2 linked regions of the Homo sapiens genome follow. Each later gene encodes a partner of the first gene's protein in a complex. Each region holds a gene or a part of one and is shown in the gene's direction. Other genes may lie near its edges.

Evidence for each region.
Region 2: the proteins of DENR (region 1) and MCTS1 are in contact, whole or in part, in a crystal structure (PDB 5ONS), measured with the Homo sapiens proteins. Residues at the interface, in NP_003668.2 of Homo sapiens: Ala25 (codon at 7,216), Tyr27 (codon at 7,222), Pro28 (codon at 7,225), Leu29 (codon at 7,228), Val31 (codon at 7,234), Tyr33 (codon at 7,240), Cys37, Ser38, Leu39, Pro40, Glu42, Tyr43, Glu45, Tyr46, Met47; in NP_054779.1 of Homo sapiens: Trp39 (codon at 9,128), Gln42 (codon at 9,137), Arg83 (codon at 9,779), His86 (codon at 9,788), Lys87 (codon at 9,791), Tyr88, Pro89, Phe90, Lys99, Ile102, Lys103, Leu106, Ala136, Lys139, Gln140, His141, Ala142, Leu143, Leu170, Asn171, Trp175, Lys178.

What each region holds. Positions count from the first base shown.
Region 1 is NC_000012.12:122,746,559-122,758,109, forward strand, and holds the start of DENR (density-regulated protein), read left to right. Parts: upstream 1-6,265; 5' UTR 6,266-6,392; intron 6,393-7,134; 5' UTR 7,135-7,143; coding exon 7,144-7,249; intron 7,250-11,551. UniProt on the Homo sapiens protein: Translation regulator forming a complex with MCTS1 to promote translation reinitiation.
Region 2 is NC_000023.11:120,596,383-120,607,386, forward strand, and holds the start of MCTS1 (malignant T-cell-amplified sequence 1), read left to right. Parts: upstream 1-7,718; 5' UTR 7,719-7,854; coding exon 7,855-7,865; intron 7,866-8,316; exon of another isoform or gene 8,317-8,471; coding exon of another isoform or gene 8,472-8,485; intron 8,486-9,024; coding exon 9,025-9,177; intron 9,178-9,696; coding exon 9,697-9,794; intron 9,795-11,004. UniProt on the Homo sapiens protein: Translation regulator forming a complex with DENR to promote translation reinitiation.

The sequences.
Region 1 (11,551 bases):
GTATTTTTAGTAGAGATGGGGTTTCATAATGTTAACGGCTGGTCTTGAACTCCTGACCTCAGGTGATCCACCCACCTCAACCTCCCAAAGTGCTGGGATTACAGGCATGAGCCACCACGGGCCCAGCCACTAGAATAGTATTTTTTAAGTGAAAGAAAATTGAGAGTAACTGAAATGTTTACCAGTGGGGAATGAGATAAATAAATTATAGTGACTTCATTCAAAAAAAAATTTACACTTGTTAAATAAAATACATACTTGTTAGCCAGGCTCAGTGGCTCATGCCTGTAATCCCAGCACTTTGGGATACCAAGGCAGGTGGATCACCTGAGGTCAGGAGTTCGAGACCAGCCTGGCCAACATGGCGAAACCCTGTCTCTACTAAAAATACAAAAAATAGCCGGGCGTGGCGGCAAGCACCTGTAATTCCACCTACTTTGGAGGCTGAGGCTGGAGAATTGCTTGAACCCAGGAGGCAGAGGTTGCAGTGAGCCGATATCGTGCCACTGCACTCCAGCCTGGGCGATGAGAGCGAAACTCCGTCTCAAAAAAAAAGAAGCTATACTTATTAAAAAGAATAATAGCATTCACTTGTATAACATTTGCCTTTGGAAAGGCCCTGTTCTAAGCATTTCTGCTATGAGATGCAGAATTAAATGTACTAACCCAGAAAGATGTCCAAGATATGTCCTTAAGTGAATAAAAACGAACTACCACCTTGCAGCTTGTGTGGTATAATTCGATTTTTATAAATTAAAATATGATGTTTTTTATTTCCTTGTACGTTGTTGGTGGGAGAATAAAAAGTTCATTTGCTGTGGGAAACAGTCTGGCAGTTCCTCAAAAAGTTCAACATAGAATTGCCACACGACTCAGCAATTCCACTCCTAGGTATACACCCAAGAGAACTGAAAACAGAGACTCAAATACTCGTACATGGATATTCATAACAGCAGTCTTCCTATAGCCAAAAGGTGATGTGTTGGTTTAGTTTATGTGTTAACTTGGCTGGGCCATGGTGCCCAGATATTTGATTGAATACTATTCTAGATGAGGGTGTGTTTTAGATGAGATTAACATTTAAATGTGTGGCCTTTGAGTAAAGTAGGTTGCACTCCACAGTGTGGGTGTGCCTCACCTGATCAGTTGAAGGCCTTAGAAGAACAAAGACTGAGCTCGTCTGAGCAAGAAAGAATTCTGCCAGCAACATCAGTTCTTCCCAGGGCGTCCAGCCTGCTGGCCTACCCTTCAGATTTGGGACTTGCCATCCTCCATGATTGTGTGAATCAGTTCCTCAAAATAAATGTCTTTATAGAAACAGAAAATTCTATGGTCCTGTTTCTCTGGAGGATCTTGACTAGGACAAGTAGAAACAAGACAAATGGTCACCTGTGAATGAATGGATGAACACATTTGTGGTATATAAATACAATGGAAAATATTATTCAGCCATTAAAATGCTGAAGGGATGAAGTGCTTTTAATGGTTTAATGAATCCTTTTATAAAAAGGATGCGTCATGCTACAAAGTGTATCAGTCTCAAAATCATTATTCTGGTTGGGCACGTTGGCCCACACCTGTAATCCCAGCACTTTGAGAGGCTGAGGCGGGTGGATCACCTGAGGCCAGGAGTTTGAGACCAGCCTGCCCAACGTGGTGAAACCCTGTCTCTACTAAAAATACAAAAAATTAGCCGGTTGTGGTGGCGGGCACCTGTAATTCTAACTACTTGGGAGACTGAGGCAGGAGAGTCACTTGAACCTGGGAGGCAGAGGTTGCAGTGAGCTGAGATCACGCCATTGTAATCCAGCCTGGACAACATGAGCGAAACTGTGTCTCAAAAAAAAAAATTATTATTGTAAGTAAAAGAAGCCAGACACAAAAGGTCACATACAGTATGATTTCATTTATATAAAATACCCAGAATAGATAGATCATAAAGACAGGACTCAGGTTAGCGTTTGCCAGGGGAGAATGAGGAATGACTGCTTAATGATTTTGGGGTTTGCTTTTGGGGTGATGGAAATGTTTTGGAAGTAGATAGAGGTGGTGTTTGCACACCAGATGGAGATACTAAATGTCATTGAATTGCTCACTTTAAATGGTTAATTTTGTGTTATTGTGCTATTGTGTTATGTGAATTGCAACTCAATTTTAAAAATTATATATACATTTTAAAATCTGGAATACATTTTAAAATTTGTACTCTGGAGTTAAGCTGCCTGGTTTAAAGTTAATTCTCTCGCTGAGTAGCTGTGAGATCTTAGGCAAGCTATTTCACCTCTTTGTTTCCTCCTGTGTAAAACAGGAACAATATTACATCACTCTAATATGAAGGAAAAATGAGTTAATCTGTGTAAAGTGCTTATAACAGTGTATAACACAGAGGAGGTGCTATGTAAGTTGTAGCTACTATTATTATTATTTTTTTATTTTTATTTTTATTTTTTGAGACGGAGTCTTGCTCTGTCGCCCAGGCTGGAGTGCAGTGGCGTGATCTCGGCTCACTGCAAGCTCCGCCTCCCTGGTTCATGCCGTTCTCCTGCCTCAGCCTCCCGAGTAGCTGGGACTACAGGCGCCCGCCACTACGCCCGGCTCATTTTTTGTATTTTTATTAGAGACGGGGTTTCACCGTGTTAGCCAGGATGGTCTGGATCTCCCGACCTTGTGATCCGCCTGCCTCGGCCTCCCATGGTGCTGGGATTACAGGCTTCAGCCACCGCGCCCGCCCTATTACTATTATTATTATAATTATATGACCAAACTGTCACAGTACTCTGGGGAGAGAGAAACCTTCATTTTTTACTGTATATGCTTCTGTATGGTTTGAATATTTTGCAAGAAGCATGTAATATTTTTACAATAAAAGACTAAAATGCATTGTAGTAAGACTCTCAGAGTGTCTGGGAGCACAGAATTAGAGTCAAGCTGATCCTCTGCCAGTGCTTTTAGTCCACTGAGAATCGACCTGTGGCGGGTCATCCCAGCTTCAACCAGTGAGATGCGTTTATGCTGATACTTCTGATACTCTGGGTCCCTCATATGAGGGGGTCCTTGGTTTGACTAAGCAAAGACAGGTTTTGCTGCCTGACTTAACAAAGTGCTTATCTCATCCCGATAAAATTGTATCATCTTTTAAAATTAGTCCTCCTCTACATTGAATGTTTATGGGCCTCTTGTGACAGAACTGGTTGTGTCCCTTGTCAGTCCTGTGCTGCAAGAGCAAATGACCTTATTAAACGTCTACTTTTTGGAGAAGCAGAACAGGTTGCTTTTTATTAACTGCTGTGGTGCCGCTCCTCCCTCTTCATCTCAGTCCCCTAATCCTTCTCCCTTTGAGCAGGGCTTCTGGGATCAAGAGTGCAGATGATGGCCTATTTATGTGTTGTTTTTGTCTTCCCAGCATCCAGGCACTCTACTTGGGCATTAGCATCCTGATTTTCCTTGGGCAACAGATTCCGCCCTCTCCATCCATCTCCGAGGTTTGGAGGATTGGGGATTTGGTTCCACCCCTTGCCTCTAAAAATAGGCATGTGACCAGGTCTGGCCAATCAGATCATTCCATCCCTGTGGCCACTGTGACTGGCCCAGGGATGAGCACATGACTCAAAATGCTAATGAGACATTCACCTGAGTTGTTCCCTGGAACTGTTGGAAAAGATAAATATCTCTTTCTTCTGGGATGGTTAAACTAATAGAAAATAACGTAAGTAAGCAGTAGGAAGAAAACATAGGGATAGAGCCAACAGATGAAAAGAGATAGCAACCTTAAAAAAAAAAAACTTGTAAGCCGGGCGCGGTGGCTCACAACTGTAATCCCAGCACTTTGGGAGGCCAAGGCGGCCGGATCACGAGGTCAGGAGATCGAGACCATCCTGGCTAACACGGTGAAACCCCGTCTCTAATAAAAATACAAAAAATTAGCCCGGCGTGGTGGCAGGCGCCTGTAGTCCCAGCTACTCGGGAGGCTGAGGCAGGAGAATGGCGTGAACCCGGGAGGCGGAGCTTGCAGTGAGCCGAGATCGTGCCACTGCACTCCAGCCTGGGCAACAGAGCGAGACTCTGTCTCAAAAAAAAAAAAAAAAAAAAAAAAAAACTTGTAAATTTGACATAATTTCAAATGTACAGAAAATCTACAAGAATAGTATGAAGAAACTCCCATGTGTTTACCCAAAATCACCAAACATACACACTTCTCACATTTGTTTTAGAATTCTCTGAGAGCAAGAGTGAGAGAAAGGTTCTAGAATACGTTGTTTTATCTGCAGGATCCAACTATTCTTGAAACCAAGATCTATTCCTGAAGGGGTGGGTTGCCCCTCCACGCCTGTGGGCATTTCTCGTCAGGTGGAACGAGAGGCTTGGAAAAGAAAGAGACACAGAGACAAATTGTAGAGAAAGAAAAATGGGCCCAGGGGACCGGCGTTCAGCATACGGAGGACCCGTGCCCGCACCGGCCTCTAAGTTCCCTTAGTATTTATTGATCATTAGCAGGCATTTCCCGGACAGGGGGATGTGCCAGGATAATAGGGTATAATAGTAGAGAGAAGGTCAGCAGGAAAACATGTGAACAAATGTCTCTGCATCATAAACATGGTAAAGAAAAAAGTGCTGTGCTTTTGATGTGCATATACATAAACATCTCAATGCCTTAAAGAGCAGTATTGCTGCCAGTATGTCCCACCTCCAGCCCTAAGGCGGTTTTCCCCTATCTCAGTAGATGGAATATACAATCGGGCTTTACACCGAGACATTCCATTGCCCAGGGACGAGCAGGAGACAGATGCCTTCCTCTTATCTCAACTGCACAGAGGTGTTCCTTCCTCTTTTACTAATCCTCCTGAGCACAGACCCTTTACAGGTGTCGGGCTGTGGAATGGTCAGGTCTTTCCCTTCCCACGAGGCCATATTTCAGACTATCACATGAGGAGAAACCTTGGACAATACCTGGCTTTCCTAGGAAGAGGTCCCTGCGGCCTTCTGCAGTGTATTGTGTCTCTGGGTACTTGAGATTAGGGAGTGGTGATGATTCTTAAGGCGCATGCTGCCTTCAAGCATTTGTTTAACAAAGCACATCCTGCACAGCCCTTAATCCATTTAACCCTCAGTTGACACAGCACAGGTCTCAGGAAGCACAGGGTTGGTGGTAGGGTTACAGATTAACAGCATCTCAAGGCAGAAGAATTTTTCTTAGCACAGAACAAAATGGAGTCTCTTATGTCTACTTCTTTCTACACAGACACAGTAACAATCTGATCTTTCTTTTCCCCATATATTCCCATACTCTTACATTTTTCTTTTTTTCATTAAAAAAAATTGTAGGCCGGGCGCGGTGGCTCACGCCTGTAATCCCAGCACTTTGGGAGGCGGAGGCGGGAGGATCCCTTGAGTCCGGGAGTTCGAGACCAGCCTGGACAGCATAGGGAGATTCCCCCACCTCTATAAACAAATTAAAAATTAGCTGGGTGTGGTAACGCGCGCCTGTATTCCCAACTACTTGGGAGGTCGAGGCTGCAGTGAACCGTGTTTGTGCAACTGCACTCCATCCAGCCTAGGTGACAGAGTGAGACCCTGTCAAAACATAAAGAAAAGGATGAAGGAAGGGAGGGAGGAAGGAAGGAAGGGAGGGAGGAAGGAAGGAAAGAAGGAAGGAAGGGAGGGAGGGAGGGAAGGGGAAGAAAGAGACAGAAAGAAGAGAAAGAAGAAAGAAAAGAAAGAACAGAAAAGAAAGAAAAAAGAATTCCTTTAATTTAGTGTATGGTGTTAAAACGCAACCAAACGCTCCATCCGGCGAAGAGAGAGAGAAAAGAAGAGAGGAAGGAAAGAAGGAAGGGAGGGAGGGAGGGAGGGAGAACACCTTCCTTTAATTCAGTGCATGGTGTTAAAATGCGACCAAACGCTCTATCCGGCTGCAATCTCCCCGCACGGGAGTGATTTATGCAGTAGCTGGAGGTTAGTCAGGACTCCAGGATGCACCGCAGACACCGAGGCGATGATCCTCGGACTCATTAATAGGGAGTCATTTGTGACTCAGGTGCGCTCTCTGCGTCTGCAAGTCACGTTCCCTTCGGCACGCCCATCTCGAGGATTCATCCTCTCCAACGGGTGACGAGCACCGCCTGCCGGCGGCCCGCCTCTCGGCCTCTTGGCCACGCCCCCCACCGGAGGGCAAGGCGCACGCTCCGCAATTTTTCTCCGCCCCCGTCTTCCGGCTTCTCGCGACATCCGCCCAGCGGCGGCCGGAATCTCGCGATAAAGGCTCATTGTCTCGCGGGAGCGCTGCTGGCGGTCGGGCGCTCGGGCGGCCCTGGCCGGGGAGACGAGTTGCATGTGTTGGTTCAGCTGGCGATAGCGGCGGGAGCGGAGCCGGCGGGGCCTGTGCGACCGCCTGGGTAACGACCCCAAGTGCTTCTCCCGCTCCCGAGAAGCTCGTAGAGAGTGTGGGGGAAGCTGAGATGCTGCCTGGCGGAAGGGGGCCGGGCCGGGCCTCTCCACACCCCCGCCCACAAGGGCCCCTTCTGGCGTCCCCGGGGTTGCTCCTTCGCCTCAGACCTGGTCGCCCTTGTCCCCTCAGTGCTCTTACATTCTGCGCTCGTTTTCTCTCCTCATCCTTCTTACGCTCTGGTTACCCCGCCCCCTCCCATGCCCTTTTTAGACTCCCCAGGCCCCTCTCATGGCGTTTAGTTGCCCCCACACCCTGCACCCCGGGCTTCTCCGATGACCCACCCCTTGTTCCTAGGCACTTCCAGCCTCTCTCCATTCGGCGCCTTTGTAGCCCTTCTCTCACTGCAGTTTGCATCCCTCCCAGATCACCCTCAGACCTTTTTGCTCCGTGTCTGCCGTGGGTACTCACCCCATCTTTCCTTCCCCATTGCTTCCTGTTTTTCTCTAGTGAGTCCCTCTGCCCCATCCTTCATGGTCCATTTGCTGCTTGCTTCCCTGTAGACCTGTGGAGCAAGGAGATGTTGTGCCTGGGATTGCTCATATTTTATGAATCGAATGCAGCTTGTATCCCCCACTCAACAACAGACTTGAAACAGCTTTGGGGTGGGGAGGTTTCTGTTGAGAGGAACACTGCTCTTCTGGGGTCTTGATTCTAAAATAGTGAGGGTGTGTTATTTTCCTTGCTTACAGGTTTGTGAAATGGCTGCTGACATTTCTGAATCCAGCGGGGCTGACTGCAAAGGAGACCCAAGGAACAGTGCCAAGTTAGATGCCGATTACCCACTTCGAGTCCTTTATTGTGGAGGCAAGTGTTGGTAGCCACAGAATGACTTTTACTCACTATACTTTTATGCATTGTAATAACAGTTTGACATTTGGTAAGCTTTCTTCCCCATCCTTTTCATTTGGTGAGTTTGTACTGGGGGAGAGGAGTCCTGGGGAGGAGGAGGCATGAATTAACAGAGTTTCCCCACCTGGGTGATTTGTGTCTGGCTACTCTGCCTGAAGAAGCTTACAGTCCATTTGTAACAGGATGTGCAACTAGGTTATTTCAGCCTGAAGGTCCTCAAGGTGTATGCTAGTCTAGCTGTCAAAGGAGGGCTTCTTGGAAGATTATGAGTTAAGGATGGCAAGGACTGGATGAGAAGGTGGGGAACGGCGTCCCAGACAAAGCGCACGACTATGTAAGAAAAAGCTTGATGGCTGTCTGTGAAGAAGTGAGCAGCTTTGAGTTTGTCTGGTGTATCGTATAGGGAGGGTGGCCCGTTAAGGAGTGGGAGAAGGTGAGGTTGGAGTGTTGGGTGGTAGGACAGTGAGGAAAGTCTTCTTGGTTTGAATCATGATATATGTATTAGGTTTAATCAAGATCTTTTTCACTTTCGAGTGTTTTTCTTCATTTTCAATATAGAAATATTTGTGAATTGTAAATGCTGTATGTATTCGCATCTTGGAAACTTTCAGAAAAATCTGAAGATACAGGACAGTAAAAGGGCAAGTAAATATTTTTTCAGTAAATATTTCTCAGAACTTACTGTGTGCCTAGTGATGTTTTAGGTGCTGGGGCCTGAGTAGTGAATAAGTCAGAAGATCCTTGTTCACGTGGACCTTACATTCTGTGACTGCAGTAGAGACCACATCTGACATTTAAGTACCGTAGAAGGAGAAATGATATCTTTTTGCCATTAAAAGTAATGGCAAAAACTGCAGTTACTTTTGCACCAACCTAATCATTTTTTGAGCAGGAAAATAAAGTGACAAGAGATTAATATGCTGCATTATTTGGAGGAAATAGAACCCACAAATTTGAAGGCCACTTTCAGAAATCTAGGTTTGAGGTAAATAAGTGCCTTGCTGAGAGTGTAAGCAGTATAAAAGTGAATAAAGAGGGTTAATCAAAGAAAAGATACAATGTTTAATGGTGAAAAAGGAAAAAGATATTTCACAATTGAGAGAGTTGAAAAACCAGAACACCACTAAAAATGATGACTTTGAGAAAGATTAGATTTGGAGATAGATAATAGGCTGACTTGCAATACAGTGAATTTGAGTTTCTCCAAATGGAAGAATCCAAGTATGCTGCATTTGGCAGCAGAGAGAGACAGTATATGAGCTTTTCTAAGGGAGAAAGAGAGAAAAGCCAGAAAGATTCTTGGGGTGTACCTGGAACGAGGTGAACTGGGTAGATTTCACCACATAGAGAATTGCTTAGTTGGTGAGAAGTTTGGAAGCTTAGTGAAAATGTCAGTCTCTAGAAATCTTGTTTTATTTTTCTGTAATTATGAATTAAAACTAAGGGGCCGGGCGCAGTGGCTCACACTTGTAATCCCAGCACTTTGGGAGGCTGAGGCAGGCAGATCATGAGGTCAGGAGTTCAAGACCAGCCTGGCCAACATAGTGAAACCCCGTCTCTACTAAAAATACAAAAACTTAGCCAGGCCTGGTGGCAGGCACCTGTAATCCCAGCTACTTGGGAGGCTGAGGCAGGAGAATCACTTGAACCCGGGAGGCAGAGGTTGCAGTGAGCCGAGATCACGCCATTGCACTCCCACCCGGGCAACAGTGCGAGACCCCATCTCAAAAATAAAAAACAAAACTAAGGATGTGAGAAAAACTGATACATTTATTTTAACAAGATGCTCAGAATATAGATTCCTATTATATTTTTATATAATGATTACCTGTGAAACAACTCTTTAAATTTGGAAACCTATGTGAGTAAAGGATAAGATCTATTCCCTGTGACCTCAGAGGGTCAGTGAACTAGGACTAAAGTGGAAACTACTGAAAGGTGCCTTTCTACCTTGTCAACACTCTCCAGAACAGTACAGGCTTCCACTTAATGTAAAAACATTCTTATGCTTAATTGAAGAAACTAGTAGTGGAGATGGGATTAGACTGTACCTTTTAATTTCTAACATTACCATTTTGTAAAAGTAGTGGATTTTGTTAGCCAGCTTGGTAAGAAGGTATGATGACATTGTTAATAGAGTCCACATCATAATCAACAATTTACAAAGACTATAAACAATTTTTACCTAGTATCTCTGATGTATAAGGTCCTCGGCTAAGTTCTGTGGAGGCATATAAATTGGCAGAGGCCCTGTCTGTCTACATATAACTTAACAGGGAAGATGATGAATGCTGAAAGAAAGAGACAAGAAATAGGCCAGGCGCGGTGGCTCACACCTGTAATCCAAGCACTTTGGGAGGCCAAGGTGGGTGGATCAGCTGAGGTCAGGAGTTCAAGACCAGCCTGGCCAACATGGTGAAACCCTGTCTCTACTAAAAATACAAAAATTAGCTGGGCATAGTGGCAGGCGCCTGTAATCCCAGCTACTCGGGAGGCTGAGGCAGGAGAATCGCTTAAACCTGGGAGGCGGAGATTGCAGTGAGCCAAGATCGTGCCACTGCACTCAGCCTTTGAGAGCAAAACTCCATCCCAGAAAAAAAAGAAGAAAGAGACAAGAAATAAAGATTAAGGACTAATAGCTGCAGTGTCAGTACAGGAGGGGAGAGATTTGTAGGAAATTAGGGGAAGACTTCATAGAGGCAACCACAGCCAAATGGGGATTTGAAGGAAAGGTTGCATTCAGGCAGGCACAGAAGGGCTGAAGGTTGGACTTGCCAGGCAAAGGAGTGGAGGTAGGAAAGTATTTAATAGTGGGTAGTGTGGAGGGAGTTTCGAGTGTTACAGTTTGGTTGTATTGTGGAATTCATGAAGAGGGGCAGCCGGAAATTATGGCAACGTGGTTTGGGGCCAAGTTCTGGGGCACCTGATTTGTAGATAATTGTAAGTCATTGAAAGTTTTGGAGCAGTGAAGTTACATGAAGATGAATCTGGCAGCAAGATAACAATTGAGGGAGGCAGGCTTATTGGCCAGGCTATAATAAGACTTTAGACAAAATTAATGAGCATTTAAATGAGTGGCATAAGTGAGGAAGAGAGGTTGAAAAATAAATTATGGTAGGATGAACAGTATAAAGCAGTTAATCAGATTTGAGGACAAGGGAGATGGGAGAAATAAACTGGATGTAGTTTTGACAGACATTTAGTATTGCTGGAGTGCTTAGAGAAGAGGGAAAACCCTCCAATAGAATACCCAACTGATTAAAGAGAAAAATAGAAGCGATAGTGACATAGGCATTTTTCTTATCATTCCTTCCCCCTCCCTCCCTTTCCCCTTTTGCAAAAAGAAGGATGCAAATTAGAGAATTTGCTCTCAGCTAAAGTCTGGGGTTTCAGAGAGCAGCTCAAATTCATTTAGGAAACACGTTTTAAGCATCTGCTCTGTGGCAAGCATTGTGCTCCATATACAGAAATAAGACATAATTATCTCCTGGAAACTGAGCTTAACTGGGAAGACAAACATTTTAACAGGTGAGTTATAATGTACTAATTGTATACTAGAGGGGTGAGCAGACTGCAGTGAGAATAAAGAACCAACCAGTTCTACTTGGGAGAACTGAAAAAAGGGAAAGTTAAAGTATTGAGTGGATTTTATGTTTGTATATTTAATCTTCAAAATTGAAATATTACAGTTTTATTGATGATAAGCTTCTCAATTGTATAAGTGGTGGGGCCAGGATTAAAATCCAAGACAAGCCATTATAACATCAGCTTCAAGGAAACTTAGCAGAGTCTTGAAGGATGAATAGGTGTTTGCTGAAAAGAATGGCATGGATAGAAGTTCATTGTGGTTGGACCATGGGCTGGTAGGAGTTGAGTCTGGAGAAGTACGATAAGATGTTTGAAAAGTTCTTAATCTGGGAAGTGATGTGATTGGTTATATCTTTTTGGATAATAACTGTTTGGAAGGAAGGAGGAAGTGCCTGAAATGGGTTGAAACTGGCCACAGAAATCAAGTTTAGGAGACTTTATTTTTATTTTAATCTTTTCCACCCTCCTCCCCAAATTTAGAAGACTTTAAAGTATGAGATGATTGAGGCTTAGTGACACTGTGTGCAAAGTTAGTGATTTTGGTGACTGTTGACAGCGAAATTTGTAATTGAAAATATTGACTTTCAGGAAGCTGATTGTGGCTGTTCATTCTCTGTTATAGAAAGGCAGTTTTTGTTTGTTTGTTTTTCAGAAGGAGTCTCACTCTGT
Region 2 (11,004 bases), on another chromosome or scaffold:
ATATCAATACCCAAGTACAAGAAGGTTGTGGAACACCAAACAGATTTAACCCAAAGAAGACTACCTCAAGGCATTTAATAATCAAACTCCCAAAGGTCATGGATAAAGAAAGGATCCTAAAAACAGCAAGATAAAAGAAACAAATAACATTGAATGGAGCTTCAATACATCTGGCAGCAGTGGAAACCTTACAGATTAGGAGAGTGGTGTGACATATTTAGAGTGCTGAAGGAAAAACACTGTAACCCTAGAATAGTATATTTGATGAAAATATCCTTCAAACATGAAGGAGAAATAAAGACTTTCCCAGGCAAACAAAAGCTGAGGGATTTCATCAACACCAGACCTGTCCTACAAGAAATGCTAAAGGGAGTACTTCAATCAGGAAGAAAAGGGCATTAATGAGCAATAATCACCTGAAGGTACAAAACTGACTGGTAATAGTACACAGAAAAACACAGAATATTATAACACTGTAACTGTGGTGTGTAAACTATTCTTATACTAGGTAGAAAGACAAAATGATGAACCAATCAAAAATAACAACTACAAAAACTCATCAAGACATAGTCAATACAATAAGAGGTAAATAGAAACAATAAAAAGTTAAAAAGCGGTGGGGATGAAGTTAACGTGTAGAGTTTTTATTAGTTTTTTTTTTTTTTGCTTGTTTGTTCCTTTATGTGTATAGTGTCAACTTGTTATCAGGTTAAAATAATGGGTTATAAGTTATTATTTGCAAGCCTCATGGTAACCTCAAACTGAAGAACATACAATGGATAAAAAAACATAGAAAGACATTATGTCATATCACCAGAGAAAATCACCTTCACTAGAGGAATACAGGAATGAAACAAGGAAGAGTAGACCACAAAACAATCAGAGAACAAATAACAAAATGGCAGGAATAAGTCCTTACTTATCAATAATAACATTGAATGTAAATAGGCTAAATTCTCCAATCAAAAGACATAGAGTAGCTGAATGGATGAATAAACAAGACCCATTGATCTGTTGCTACAAGAAACACACTTCATCTATAAAAACACACATGGACTGAAAATAAAGGAATGGAAAAAGATGTTCCATGCTAATGGAAACCAAAAAAGAGCAGGATTTGCCATACTTACATCAGTCAAAATAGATTTCAAGATAAGAACCAGAAGAAGAGACAAAGAAGGTCACCGTGTAGTGACAAAGGGGTCAATTCAGCAAGAAGATATAACAATTCTAAATATATATGCACCCAACACTGGAGCACCCAGACATATAAATCAAATATTATTAGAGCTAAAGAAAGAGATAGGTCCCAAAACAATAATAGCTGGAGACCTCAACACCCCATTTTCAGCATTGGACAGACCTTTCAGACAGAAAATCAACAAAGAATCATCAAACTTAATCTGCACTGTAGACCAAATGGGTCTAATAGATATTTACAGAACATGTCATTTAAGAGCTGCAGAATACACATTCTTTTCCTGAGCACATGGATAATTCTCAAGGATAGACTATATCTTAGGTTACAAAACAAGTCTTAAAAAATTCAAAAATTGAAATAATATCAAGCATCTTCTTTGACCACAATGGAATAAGACTAGAAATTAATAACAAGGGGAATTTTGGAAACTATACAAACACAGGGAAATTAAACAATATGCTCTTGAATGACCACTGGATCAGTGAAGAAGTTAAGAAGGAAACTGAAAAATGTCTGGAAACAAATGATAATGGAAACACAACCTATCAAATCCCATGAGATACAGCAAAAGCAGTACTCAGAGGAAAGTTTATAGCTCTAAGTGCCTACATCCAAAAAAGAAGAAAAACTCCAAATAAATAATCTAATGATGCATCTTAAAGAACTAGAAAAGCAAGAGCAAATCAAACCTAAAATTAGTAGAAGAAAAGAAATAGTGAAGTTCAGAGCAGAAATAAATGAAATTGAGATGAAGAGAACAATACAAAAGATCAATGAAACAAAAAGATATTTTTTGAAAAGTTAAAGAAAATTGACAAACATTTAGCCTGATTAACTAAGAAAAAAAGAGAGAAGATCCAAATAAAACCAGAAATGAAAAAGGAGGTATTAAAACTGATACTACAGAAATTCAAAGGATCATTAGAGGCTACTATGAGCAACTATATGCCAATGAATTGGAAAATCTGGAAGAAATGGCCAAATTCCTAGACACACACAGCCTACTAAGATTGAATCAGGAAGAAATCCAAAACCTGAACAGCACAAAAGCAAGTAATGAGATCAAAGCTGTAATAAAAAGTCTCCCAGTAAAGAAAAGCCCAGGACCCAAAGGCTTCATTGCTGAATTCTACCAAACATTTAAAGAAGAACTAATACTGATCCTACTCAAACCATTCCAAAAAATAGAGGAGGAGGGAATACTTCTAAATTCACTCTATGAGACTGGCATTACTCTGATACCAAAACCAGACAAAGACACAATAAAAGAAAACCACAGCCGGGCGTGGTGGCTCACACCTGTAATCCCAGCACTTTGGGAGGCAGAGGCGGGCAGATCACGAGGTCAGGAGTTCAAGACCAGCCTGACCAACATGGTGAAACCCTGTCTCTACTAAGAATACAAAAAAAAGCTGGGCGTGGTGACGCGTGCCTGTAATCCCAGCTACTTGGGAGGCTGAGGCAGGAGAATCACTCGATCCTGGGAGGCGGAGGTTGCAGTGAGCTGAGATCGTGTCACTGCACTCCAGCCTGGGTGACAGAGCAAGACTCAGTCTCAGGCCAATATCTCTGATGACCACTGATGCAAAAATCCTCGGCCGGGCACGGTAGCTCATGCCTGTAATCCCAGCACTTTCCCAGGTTGAGGTGGGTGAATCACAAGGTCAGGAAATCGAGACCATCCTGGCTAACATGGTGAAACCCTGTCTCTACTAAAAATACAAAAAAATTAGCTGGGCATGGTGGTATGCACCTGTGGTCCCAGCTACTCGGGAGGCTGAGGAAGGAGAATGGCATGAACCTGGGAGGCAGAGCTTGCAGTGAGCCGAGATCGCACCACTGCACTCCAGCCAGGGTGACAGAGTGAGACTCCGTCTCAAAGAAAAAAAAAATCCTCAACAAAATACTAGCAAACTAAATTCAACAATACATTAGAAAGATCATTCATCATGACCAACTGGGATTTATCCCTGGGATTCAAGGATGGCTCAATATACACAAACCAATCAATGTGATACAGCCTGTCAACAGAATGAAGGATAAAAACCTTCAGTTTCAGTTTGAAATAAAAACCTTTCATTTCAGTTGATGCTGAAAAAGCATTTGATAAAATTCAACATTTCCTCATGATAGAAACCCTCAATATCCGGGGATAGAAAAAACATACCTTAACATAACAAAAGTCATATACGATAGACCTGCACCTAGTATTATACTGAAGGGGGAAAAACTTAAAGCCTTTCCTCTAAGATCCAGAACATGACAGGATGCCCACTGTCATCACTGTTATTCTGAAAGTGCTAGTTAGAGCAGTCAGACAAGAGAGAGATACAAAGGGCATCCAATTTGGAAAAGAAGAAGTCAAATTATCCTTGTTCGTTGATGATATGATCTTATATTTAGAATAAACTAGACTCCATGAGAAAACTATTAGAACTGATAAATTCATTAGAATTGTAGGATACACAATCAAAATGCAAAAATTAGTAGCATTTCTATATGCCAACAGTGAACAATCTGAAAAAGAAATTTAAAAAATAATCTCATTTACAATAGCCACATGTAAAATTAAATACCTAGGAATTGACTGAACTATAAGAAGTGAAAGGTCTCTATAATGAAAAGTAAAATACACTGGCCGGGCACGGTGGCTCACACCTATAATCTGAGCACATTGGGAGTCCAAGGTGGGCAGATCACTAGGTCAGGAGTTTGAGACCAGCCTGGCCAATATGGTGAAACACCATCTCTATTAAAAATACAAAAAAAAAATTAGCTGGGCATGGTGGCACACGCCTGTAATCCTAGCTACTCAGGAGGCTGAGGCAGGAGAATTTCTTGAACCCGGGAAGCAGAGGGTGCAGGGAGCTTAGATCGCGCCACTGCACTCCAGCCTGGGCAACAGAGCGAGACTCTCTCTTGACATATAAAAAAGTCAATTCAAAATGGATTAAAGACTTAAATCTAAGACCTCAAACCATGAAACTACTGCAAGAAAACATTGGGGAAAATCTCCACAACATTGGTCTGGGCAACGACTTCTTGAGCAATACCCAACAAGTACAGACAACCAAAGCAAACATGGGCAAACTGCATTGCATAAAGTTAAAAAGCTTCTGCACAGCAAAGGATACAATCACCAAAGTGAAAAGACAACCCATGGAATGGGAGAAAATATTTGCAAACTACCCATCTGACCAGTGATTAACAACCAGAATATATAAGGAGTTCAAACAACTCTATAGGAAAAAATCTAATAATACAATCAAGAAATTGGCAAAATATTTGAATAGACATTTCTCAAAAGATGACACACAAATGGCAAACAGGCAAAAGAAAAGTTGCTCAGCATCATTGGTCATGAGAGAAATGCAAATCAAAACTACAAGATATCATCTCACCCCAGTTAAAATGGCTTATATCCAAAGACAGGTAATAACAAATGCTGGTGAAGATGTGGACAAAAGGGAACACTTGTACACTGTTGGTGGGAATGTAAATTAGTACAACCACTATGGAGCACAGTTTGGAGGTTCCTCAGAAAGCTAAAAATTGAGCTACCATATGATCCAGCAATCCTACTCCTGGGTATCTACCCAAAAAGAAAGGAAATGAGTATATCAGAGAAATATCTGCACTCCTATGTTTCTTACAGCGGTGTTTACAACAGCTAAGATTTGGAAGTAACCTAAGTGTCCATCAACAGATGTTTGGATAAAGAAAATGTGGTACAGATACACAATGGAGTACTATTCAGCCATAAAAAAATGAGATCCTGTCATTTGCAATCACATGGATGGAACTGGAGTTGACTATGTTAAGTGAAATAACCCAGGCCCTGAAAGACTAACGTCACATGTTCTCACTTATTTGTGGGATCTAAAAATCAAATCAATTGAACTCATGGACACACAGAATAGAAGGATGGTTACCAGGTGCTGGGAAGGATAGTGGGGGGTTGGGTAGTGGGGGGTTGGGTAGTGGAGGTGGGGTTGGCTAATAGGTATTAAAAACAGAAAGAATGACTAAGACCTTCTATGTGATAGCAAAATAGGGTGACTTACATGGTTTGGATGTGTCCCCCCCAAATCTCATCTTGAATTGTAATCTGCATAATCCCCACATGTCTGGGGAGAGACCTGGTGGGAGGTGATTGGATCATGGGGGTGGCTTTCTGCATGCTGTTCTTGTGATAGTGAGTGAGTGCTCACGAGATCTAATAGTTTTATAAGGGGCTCTTCACCCTTTGCTCCACACACTTCTTTCTCCTGCCACCTTGTGAAGAAGGATGTGTTTGCTTCCCCTTCTGCCATGATTGTAAGTTTCCTGAGCCCTCTCCAGCCATGCAGAACTGTGAGTCAATTAAACTTCTTTACTTTATAAATTACACAGACTCAGGTATTCTAGCAGTGTGAGAATGAACTAGTACTGTGACTATAGTCAATAATAACCTAATTGTATATTTTAAAATAAGTTAAAGAGCATAATTGAATTGTTTGTAACTCAAAGGATAAATACTTGAGGGGATGGACGCCCCGTTTTCTATGATGTGCTTATTTCACATTGCATGCCTGTACATCTCATATACCCCATAAATTTATACACCTACTAGGTACCCATAAAAATTAAAAAAAAATAATCCTGCCAGTGTGGCAGTCACCACAGCTTGGGGTCTGGACATCAGTTTCACATGTTCATAATGTCAATATTCTAAATGTTGCAGAGTTGATGGATGCTGGGAATGTGGATTCTCACTAAGGATGTTCACAAGAGAGTGTTGTATAAACCAGAATGCCAATTTATTAATTTACAAATGCAAACATAATTGTTCATGCAGATTTGATTGGAACGTAGCTAATTCTTTCCCTGTGGGCAGATCTTCATGGGAAGCCAAATTATAATCAGAATATTGTTCATACCATAGAATTAAGACAAGGTGTTAGTTGGATCATTTAAATGCATAGTACTGTTTGCTATAATTGCTCTAATGGCCCGTCTCCTCAATATGGACTAGAGTATTTACTCCCTGGGGAGACTGGTGTATTTGTTTTGGATGTCAGTGCCTACCCACCCCACCTCCTGCGTAGGGCCTTTTCAGGTTTTTAAATTTTTCCATGATTTCTTGGCTGATCAAAACCCTTGATTAGGCCAGGCACAGTAGCTCATGGCTGTAATCCCAACACTTCGGGAGGCTGAGTTCGGGGAATTGCTCGAGGCCAGGAGTTCAAGATCAGTCTGGGCAACTTAGTGAGACCCTGCCTGTCTCTACAAAAAATTAAAATTCGCCAGGTGTGGTAGTGCATGCCTGTAGTACCAACTACTCCGGAGGCTGAGGCGGGAGGGTCACTTGAGCCTGGGAAGTTGCAACTCCAATGAACCGTGATCATGCCACTGCACTCCAGCCTAGGTGACAGAGTGAGATGCTGTCTCTAAAACAAAAAACAAAGTGAAACTCTTGATTGGCATAATTTTGTTTCTCTATCAGCTTTATTTTTAAAAAAATTACATAAGTAAAACATGTCTCTTTAGCTATTATCTCTTAAATCAGATTACCTTCTGTAATAATTCTATGGGAATTATTCTACGGGAGCACAGTCATTCACGCTTGTAACCCCAGCACTTTGGGATGCCAAGGTGGGAGGACTGCTTGAGCCCAGGACTTTGCAACCAGCCTGAGCAACATAGACCCCGTCTCTACAATAATAATAATAATAATAAAAATAAAAAAATTAACCGGGCATGATGGTGTGTGCCTGTAGTCCATGCTACTTGGGAGGCTGAAGTGGGAAGATCCCTTGAGCCAAGGAGGTAGAGGCTGCAAGTGAGCCATGATAGCACCACCGCATTCAAGCCTGGGCAAGAGTGAGGCCCTGTCTCAATAAAAACCCGCAAAAAACTTTGGGAGCATCGTACGGTTGCCAGTGAATAAGGTTATAAGATAAAAAACAGGATGCTCAATTAAATTCAGCTAAACAAGCGCTGTATATTTTTAGTGTAAGTATATCCAAAATATTAATGAGGTATACTTACACTAAAACAAATATTCATTGTTTACCTGAAATGCAAATTTAAATAGGCATCCTGTATTTTCATTTGCTAAACCTGGCAATCCTACCAGCACTTTAACATGAAGCCATGAGGGTTGCCTGGATTCATGCTGGTAGGTAAGCACCAATCCATTCGGTTGCCTCAGACAGGACAGAAACCATTCCCTCTAAAAAAATCGTTTACTTTGACGATAGGTAGCAACGAAGCACGGAAGAATCTTGACCCTTTGAGGAACCCGTAACTGACGCAAGTGCCATAAATGCTACTTTGATTGATTCTCCGCCCCCTCCATTCTTCTCTTCCTGCAATTGCTCTATCACTTCTTCCCTCTCAAGTCCCGCCCTTTCAGCTACCTCCAACTGCTGAGGAACCGGTTGCCTAAAAGGAGCCGGCAAAAGCGCCTACGTGGAGTCCAGAGGAGCGGAAGTAGTCAGATTTGACTGAGAGCCGTAAAGCGCGGCTGGCTCTCGTTTTCCGGATAACGACTACAGCTCCGACTGTCAGTGCCGGCCTTCCTCGTGTGAGGGGATCTGCCGGACCCCTGCAAATTCAATTTCTTTCCCATTCCGGGCCCTTCCCTATCGTCGCCCCCTTCACCTTGGATCATGTTCAAGAAGTAAGGACATGCTGTGGCCTCCATCGGCTGCTCACAAAGGCGGTGGGGTGGGGGTGGGGAAGAGGGCGAGAGCTAAGATCCTCTTTCTCTCTCCCCCGCCCCTGCCATCCTGACTCCCTAAGGTTTTCTATAGTACTATGCTCTCACTCCCAACTTGAACACTTCTTTAAGCTTTCCATCCGTAGTCCTTAATTGGGTTTCAGTCCCTCCACTCCCATTGTTTTTTCTCCTTACCCCTCTTTCTCTTTTGCCCCCTCCCCCAATTCTGTCTCCATTCCTAGGGTTCTACCAATCACATCCGTGCACTGTGATTTAGAGGCATATTCTCTGTAGCTGAGAGGGGAGCCCTGCGCTCACTGCCATATGTTTATTAGTTATGAACTGAATAAAGGAAGGCTTGACTTCCTGGGTCATGGGAGTGAAGGAGTCTGGGTGACAGGAAGCAAGCGGCCTGTCATGCCTATTGCCTAGCTGCCAGATTAACCTTGCCTTGAAAATAACGATTGCCCCATAGGCTATTCAGTGTAAGGAAGACAAAAATTCCTTGGGAACCTACTAGTGGGTTTGCCTTCCAGATTTGGTAGACGCAAAAAGCAAAGGGGGAACATGGGCAAAGGAAGGTGGGTTTTGTGCATGAAATTTTGAGCAAAAACGAATAGGGATCTTAGAAATCATTATTATCATCACTTAAAAAAAATCTCAGCAGATTACATAGCCTAGCAGGGGCCGATTTTCTATGTTATGCTTGGGTTGGTCTTTTGTATCTCAAGAATTGAGGGTTTTGTTTTCTGATCTCAGGTTTTATTATTGGTGGGAGCCTGTGTTTCTTCCTGGGTAGAATTGAATAAGATTTTCCAGGAAAGGCATTTGTGTAGCTAATTACAGATTATGGTGCAAAGTATGTCTCATATTCCTCCCCCTAACCCCAGCTAATTGCTGTATACTTGACAGTTTATTTCAATATTGTATTAAGACATTGGTTTTGTGCTGGACAGAGTAAAAGGGAGATGGTATTTTTTTTTAAAAGAACAATTTATTTCATAATTAAGTATCTAAATACTTGGTTGGGAATAAATGACTAATTAGAACAGTACCTTTAGGTATTCTGATACCTCTACTTAGAAATGCCTTTTCTTTTCTTGCAAAAATTACTTGGCAGATTTGATGAAAAAGAAAATGTGTCCAACTGCATCCAGTTGAAAACTTCAGTTATTAAGGGTATTAAGAATCAATTGATAGAGCAATTTCCAGGTATTGAACCATGGCTTAATCAAATCATGCCTAAGAAAGATCCTGTCAAAATAGTCCGATGGTAAGTCTTTGTTTTTGTCTGTGTAAAGCTCGGTATAGCTGAATATTTAATGATTAGATTGCACTCATACTAAATGGAATTATTTTCAGATTAACTATTGATAGATTAATAATGGGGTAGACACAGAATAACTCTAAAACTCCAATATTTGTATTTTCAAAGATTTTCTATGTCCCTGAAAAAATGTGGCTTTGTGTATTGATTGTTCTAGTAAAGAGTTAAATGTTTTAGTTCAGAGTTGGATTTAATTTATTTCAGTTTGTTGTTTAGAGAATTGTTTTATTGAATTACCTAACAATGGAATTAATAAAATGTGAAATAAAATTGGTTGTAGCAGGTAATATTTTTCTTTTTTTCTCTACTGGACTTGCATGATAGGAAAAACAATGTAAACAATATTTTTTGGCCAGGATTTTTACTGACTTTTTAAGAAAGTTTATCACTGTATATGCGTGTTTTATATTGTGAATTTTTGAAAGAAAATATCTAACTTGGTACTTTGTGACATTTGTCTTACAGCCATGAACATATAGAAATCCTTACAGTAAATGGAGAATTACTCTTTTTTAGACAAAGAGAAGGGCCTTTTTATCCAACCCTAAGATTACTTCACAAATGTAAGGTTTTTTTATTTTTATTTTTTGAAATTTTACTCCTATTGCAATATTCAAATGTAAAGTCTTGTAAGAAATATGCATTTAATCAGATAAGACACTGCTGGGGGAGAAAAACAGAAATATGCATTTGGGAATACTGAAAGACACAAAAAGAGTTTAGAGTGACTTCTGATAATTGACTCATTATTTATTAGTACTAGGTAATAATGGATGTAAAACTAAAATGAATGCCCATCTTGTGGTAAATCTGAAAAATGCAGATTCTCTCATGCATTCCAGAAAGCCCAAGAAAGATCATTTATTAATTCATTCAACAAATATTTATTGCCGGGCACGGAGGCTCACGCCTGTAATCCCAGCACTTTGGGAGGCCAAGGCGGGTGGATCACCTGAGATCAGGAGTTCGAGACCAGCCTGGCCAACATGGTGAAACCCCGTCTCTACTAAACATACAAAAGTTAGCCGGGCGTGGTCACAGGTGCCTGTAATCCCAGCTACTCGGGAGGCTGAGGCAGGAGAATCACTTCAACCCGCGAGGCGGAGGTTGCAGTGAGCAGAGATCACGCCATTGCACTCTAGCCTGGGGAACAAGAGCGAGACTTAGTCTCAAAAAAAAAAAAAAAAAAAAAAAGACAAATATTTATTGAACTTACTATGTGCTAGGCATTCAGCTAGGTGCTGAGAATACAATGGGAAGCAAAGACATTGTCTCTGTCCTTAAGAAACTAATAGTCTAGTTTGGAGAATAAACAACAATTAGATAATTACGCAAATATGTATTTACAAACTGTGATAAGCATTGTGAGCATTTTCATCTTTTATATTTGTATCTATTTGCCTAATAGAGAAAAGTCTATATATGGGAAAGCATTGACTAAGTGTCCTTCCGTCCAGGTATTTCCTGTGATGTGTGTAAATGCATTTTTTTTTAAAATTGGGCTCTCTGTTACATAGTTTTTAAAAATTGATACGTCATAGCTGTACATTGTCTGCTGTTGTGGTGCCTGTATCCCCCACCACCTATATATATTTATAATAGTTGTACATATTTTAGGGGTACATGTGATATTTGATACCTTTATACAGCGTGTAATGATCAAATCAGGGTAATTAGGGTATCTGTCACCTCAAACGTTTATCTTTGTGTTGAGAAGATTACAATTCTTCTAGCTATTTTGAAATATAGAGTAAATCATTGTTAAATATAATT